Linked DNA regions of Homo sapiens: region 2 is linked to region 1. The links come from fine-mapping of genetic effects on gene expression. A gene starts in region 1. The other region holds a variant in brackets. All regions are shown on one strand. Distances are from middle to middle. Region 1 holds the start of GLI1 (GLI family zinc finger 1). Region 2 overlaps LRP1 (LDL receptor related protein 1).

Evidence for each region. PIP is the estimated chance that this variant, and not a neighbour inherited with it, causes the effect.
Region 2: its variant is the best candidate, but not a certain one, in a credible set for the expression of GLI1 in blood mononuclear cells (TOPMed, PIP 0.55).

Annotation. Positions count from the first base shown.
Region 1 is chr12:57,458,594-57,461,387 of GRCh38, reverse strand. GLI1 (GLI family zinc finger 1) reads right to left here and starts at 1,603. Exons shown (of 12, transcript NM_005269.3): 1 at 1,187-1,603. It overlaps LOC124902947 (a long non-coding RNA gene), which reads left to right. Exons shown (of 2, transcript XR_007063335.1): 2 at 1,827-2,794. RefSeq lists enhancers at 1,875-1,924, 1,935-2,014.
Region 2 is chr12:57,171,072-57,173,865 of GRCh38, reverse strand. It overlaps LRP1 (LDL receptor related protein 1), which reads right to left. Exons shown (of 89, transcript NM_002332.3): 21 at 516-698; 22 at 1-86. Among named protein-coding and RNA genes, the nearest start is that of MIR1228, 22 kb to the left of the region's middle. RefSeq lists a silencer at 535-748. The variant C/T (reference allele first, on the strand shown) is at 1,357.

The sequences.
Region 1 (2,794 bases):
CCGGGAACCCCCTGGTGACGTCAAGGGCGGGGATGCCAGGGAGATAATGGTGGAGGGGGAGAGGTCTCTGGACCCCGCCCCCTAGGGAAAACCACACTTATTCCGACCCTTACATATCCCCCGGGAAACCGCCCGCCTTCTCCCTCTACTGGAACGTAAAGACCTATCCTAGAAGACCCCAGCTCTCCAGACCCCTAAAACCCTCAGTCCCCAGGCTCTACGGGGTCCCCTTTCCGTAATCCTGTCCCGAAAGCTAGCTGCCCAGTGCTGATTGTTTCGGGGTCATGGGACCTGAAAGAGGATTCAGAGCGGGGAGCAAGGGCAGGCAGGGTGGTCTGAGCCAGAGGAGGGGCCTCGATCCCCAGCTCCCGTTTGGGCGGGGTGCCAACGGGGATACACAGGCTGGCAGTGGCCAGTGGTCCCGCCCAGCCCCGGTAGGGGTCTCCCTGCGGCTGGCTCCCGCTGCCCCGGTGGTCCTGAGGTCAGAGGGTCAAGACAAGGTCTCCCCGGCTCCTCCTGAGCTCCTTGCCCACAGCCCTTGGGACTCAGGAGTCCAAATTGCATGGGGTCATTCTAGGGCCTTCACTAGACCTTGGACAGCCCCCCCCCGCCCCAGCCCCCTTCCAAGTCCAGAAGACACTCCTTTCCCCTAAAGCACAAGCATCCACTGGCACATCTGTCACAAGACAGGTCAAAGGTTCAAGCCTGGCTGGCCCCTAGTGGCTCTGTTGCCTCCCACACACCCGTCCCCACCCCACCTGGAGCTCCCTCCTTTGCAGTCCCCACCTTTCAGAAACACTGACATCTTCCTACCCCACGCGCAGACACACACCTGGGGTTACCTCTCTACAACGCAGACCTCCAGCTAGCCATCCCTCCAGCCTCTTAAACTTAACCGCATGAAAGTAAGATATTTCTAATATATGGGAGAGGCGGAGACAAAGACCCACGGTTCCCTGAGACAGAGATACACAGACTGACAGAAGAAAAAAAGGGAAGAAAAAGAAGATACAGAGAAAGACACAAGTGAAAAATCTGGAGTTTCTAATGTCTCACCCCAGGCTCTCCCACCCCTATTTTGCCTCTATGTCCCGGGTCTGGGATGAGTCCCTAAGAAGCTGAGCATCCCCTCAGGCCCCCTCCCCCACTGCTCCCAGGTGGTCCCCCGCCTGCCCCCCCTTCTCACCTCTGTCTGGGCGCTGGGCTCGGGATGCGCGGTCCAGGGCTGGAGTCTGGGCTGGGGGGTGTGCGGTGGGGAGGGGGGGCGGAGAGGGCCACGGCAGCGCAGCCTCGATGCCACCCCCACCCCCCCAACCTGGCCCCCAGCCCTCCCGCCGGCCCAGCCCGCCGGGCCGCAAGCCCGGACCACCCGCGAGAAGCGCAAACTTTTTTTTTCCCTTTTGCAAAAACTTTTTCTCTCTCCAGCCGCTGGCGCGCCGCCGCTCTTCCCGCTCGCCCCTCACCTCCCTTCTATTTCCCTCCCTCTTGCCGTTCTGGAGGATGAGGCGGGGTAGCTGGAAGCAAGAGAAGGGGTGCCGGGCTTATTGCACCCCCAGGACCCCCAGGATCCTCCCCCTCCCTTGAGGGACCCTATACTGCTTACGCCCCCCCCCCCGCCCCGGCTGAACACGCTGCTGTTGGTGAGTACTAAATCCCGGCTTGGATTTCTGGATCGGCTGGCCCCAAAGAGGCCCCGACAACCAGATTGAGGAAAATATTGCGGGGCAGGGGGAGAAGTTCAACCGAGAACGATAATAGTGGAGGTAGGGTAGTCGCCTTTGGTTGGTGCTAACTGAGCATTCTGCCATCCTGTGGTTTATCTGCAGGCCTCACCCTTTGGATGGAACTTGCAGCGGCCGGGACAGAGTTGCGGTTTGGGGCAAATCAAGTTGGGTTGGGGGCTCTGGAAGAAGGTGAGGAGTCTATGGAGCATAAAAGCAAGGAGCAGCGGCTGAGGCTCTGGGTGCAGGGTGTGGTTCACGAGGTCACCAAGGAGCCCTGGGACTGAAGCCCCTTTCCCTAGAACCCCGGCTCTACGTCTCGAAGTTCTGGAGGGTGCCGCCCCTCCGCACCACGTCACTGCAGGCTCTAGCTGCTCTTCCAGGCTTTCTGCTCCCTCTGCTGGCCGTTCTCACACATGACACCCGCTCGGAGTCGAAGCAGAAGAGCTGGGGAACTGAAGGAGGAGCCCAGTTGAAGGAGGAGCCCCTCACTAAAGCCCACTTAAAAGCCCAGGAGGTGGATATGTGAGCTCTGAGAAACGGAGAGGCAGAGGTTGCTATGCCCAGCGGTACTGCCTGACAGGGAAGTGCCCTGCCTCTTTAGATTTGCATTGCCATCGTGACCGGATATAAGGGAGGGGCAGCATTTCAGTCTCTGATTTTTATGAGAAAGAGGAGGAAGCATGACAAGGAAAAAGGGCACCCTCTCCCCTTTTTTTCAACCCCACAGGCAGACCTCCCACATCCTAGCTCTGCTTCCAAGAACCACCCCCTTGGGTGTGGAAGGTCAGTGGGTTAACTGTTCAGTCTGAGGGTCAAGGGGGAAAAGAAAAGGTGAAGGTAGGGGGAGATCTGGGACTTTGACCCAGGCTAGTTATCCCCAGAGGGTCAGAGACCCAGCTCAGTCAGACCAGACTAATGGGCACTGAAAAAAAGGCACCCCACACATGCTCCTGTCCCAGCCTCGAGCCCCTTCTTCCAGAGGAGCTATTTATGTATTTATGTATTTATTTATTTTTATTTGGGACGGGGCCTCACTATTTGCCCAGGCTGGAGTGCAGAGGCTATTCACA
Region 2 (2,794 bases), 290 kb after region 1:
GGCCAGGGACTCGCAGTTCTCCTCGTCCGAGTTATCCTCACAGTCATTGTCGCCATCACACACCCACGCTTTGCTGATGCACCGAGCTGAGGGACAGGTGCACTATGAGGGCCCAGGCCCGGGGACTGGGGCTCCCCCTGCCCTTCCTTCCAGACCCTGTGGGCTTCTCTAATAGGGTCAGGATTGCAACGCTGTGGGGTCCACGAGGAACCCCGAGGCTTTTTGGGTCAAATTCACATAGGCAACAAACAAGGCAGGAATCTGCAGCAGGAGGTGCTGAAGCTCAACTCTGGTAGGGTTTTGGCTTCTCAGGTCCTCTGTGCAGGCTCTGGCCCTTCATGCCTTCCCCCACCCATGACACACAAGCTTCCTCTGGACTGCCTTTTGCCTTGCACTGTCCCCAGCACCACTCCACACAGCACAGTGCCATCCCCTTTGCCGCTACTCTGCTCTCAACACGGTCTCCTCCTGCCCACATTGTGCTGTTCCAGACGCCCTCCAACCATCCTCTTCACCTGAGTCCTTGCAGCCAAACTTGACACTGGGATCGCAGACGTGGGTCACTCCCTCACAGCTCTTCTCATCGCTGGAGTCCATGCAGTCAGTGTCCCCATCGCAGCGCCACCGCAGGGGGATGCATAGTCCATCCAGCCGGCACTGGAACTCATCAGTGTGGCAGCCACCAGGGGGCCTCGTGGCTGCAGAGGGACAGTGGAGGGCCTCAGGAGGGAGGGGTTGCCCAGGTCAGCCCTCCTCATCCCTGTGCCCTGCCACCCCGGTAAGCCCAGCCTGGGGATATGAGCAGAGGCAGGCCTGGAGAGTCTGCCAAGCTTTGCTGACACTCCTTGGAAGCACCAACTCAGTAGTAGAGTCAGGAGGCATCACACCTCCAAGGGCCCCACAATCACCTCATCTAATCCCCCCATTGACACCGGAGATCTCAGCTGGAGAAGCAATTTGCTAAGGCCTGAGCCCAAATGCCCACCTCCTTAGCCTCTATTTCATTCATTCATGCCACAAATGTTTACTGAGTGCCTCCTGTGTGCCAGGCGCTGTCCTGGGGCCAGCACTGAACCAGACAAAGTCCCTACCCTCATGGAGCTTAGGTTCTAATGGGGAAGAGAGACAAGACATAACCCATAAATCTAGACTGTAATTTCAGGTATTGATAAAGCTATGGAGATAAAGCTGGGTAGAAGCTGAGAGGGATGGGGGTGATCTGTCAGGTAAGATGGTCAGGGAAGACCTCTGGGCAGAAGGAATCTGAGCAGAGGCCTGCATGAAGAGCGAGTGAGCCCAGAGGATCCCTGGAGGCACACTCCAGGCAAGGGGAACAGCCGCTGCAAAGTCTCATCT[C/T]CGAGATAGGACTACGCCAGCACTTCAGAAAACAGCACACAGGCCAGGCGCGGTGGCTCACGCCTGTAATCCCAGCACTTTGGGATGCCAAGGCGGGCGGATCACGAGGTCGGGAGATCGAGACCATCCTGGCTAACATGGTGAAACCCTGTCTCTACTAAAAATACAAAAAATTAGCCAGGCGTGGTGGCAGGCACCTGTAGTCCCAGCTACTTGGGAGGCTGAGGCAGGAGAATGGCGTGAACTGGGAGGCGGAGCTTGCAGTGAGCTGAGATTGCGCCACTGCACTCCAGCCTGGGCGACAGAGAGACTCCATCTCAAAAAAAAAAGAAAGAAAAGAAAACGCCACAGCTGCCCGGGAGGCAGAGCTTGCAGTGAGCCGAGATCACGCCACTGTACTCCAGCCTGAGCGACAGAGGGAGACTCCATCTCAAAAAAAAAAAAAAAGAAAAAAGAAAACGCCACAGCTGGAGTAGAGTGCAGGGGGAGGGGAGGGCAGGAATGCAGGTCAGAGGGGTAGGGGTGGGGGCCCTGCAGGCCGTGCAGAGGGGCTTGGCATTTGTTCCAAGGGTGCAGGGAGCCAGTACAGGCTGGAGGGCAGGGCCAGGGCATGATCTGACTTATGTTGTCAGGATCACTCTGGCTGCTGTCCTGAGATCTGACTCAGGAGGCCAGGAGAGGAGCAGGAGCACTGCCTGGTGGAGCCCCACACTCATACACTCATGCTGCCACAGACACCCCGCTCCTCCCCCTTCCCTACCCTGGACCCAGCTGATGCTCTCATCTCATGCCGGGACTTTCAGCAGCAGTCTCTGAACTGATTTTCCTTTCTTGGGGCCCCTGAACCTCTTCTCAATCTAATCTTCCTCTAGGGCTGTGTTCCGAAATCACCTCCTACATCACAGCACCTTCCGGCTTGGAAATCCTTCAAAGGTTCCCAGTGCCTCCCAAATCAAGCCTCTCACGATTTACACCTGCTGTCATCATCTGCCCCCTTTGAGGACAGCCTCATTCCCCACTGTCCCTGCACGAGCCTTTCCCTCGGTCTGAACGGCTCCACCTGGCCCCACTGTCACCCTACGGAAGTGCTCAGTTTCACCCTCTAAGTCTTGACGACAGCATTCTCCGGACCATGCCATCCCCACTGGAAGACCCTCCCTCCTGTCCATTTACCTGCAGTCTAAACACAACTCCTCCTGAATGGTCCCAGACCATCCAGCTCATACCATAGTTAACAACTGCTACCAATAGTGACACCCTGCTCCTCCACGCCAGGCCTCACATACCTCAGCTCATTTCATAAAGGAGGATGCCCAGGCTCAGGGGAAGCAACTTGTCCAAATTTGCCCAGCTTATCTGGGAGCGGCAGGGAGCTCTTCTCACCACACCACACAGCCTCCAGAGGCCCCTTCTCAGAACCCTAAGGGATATCACCTGT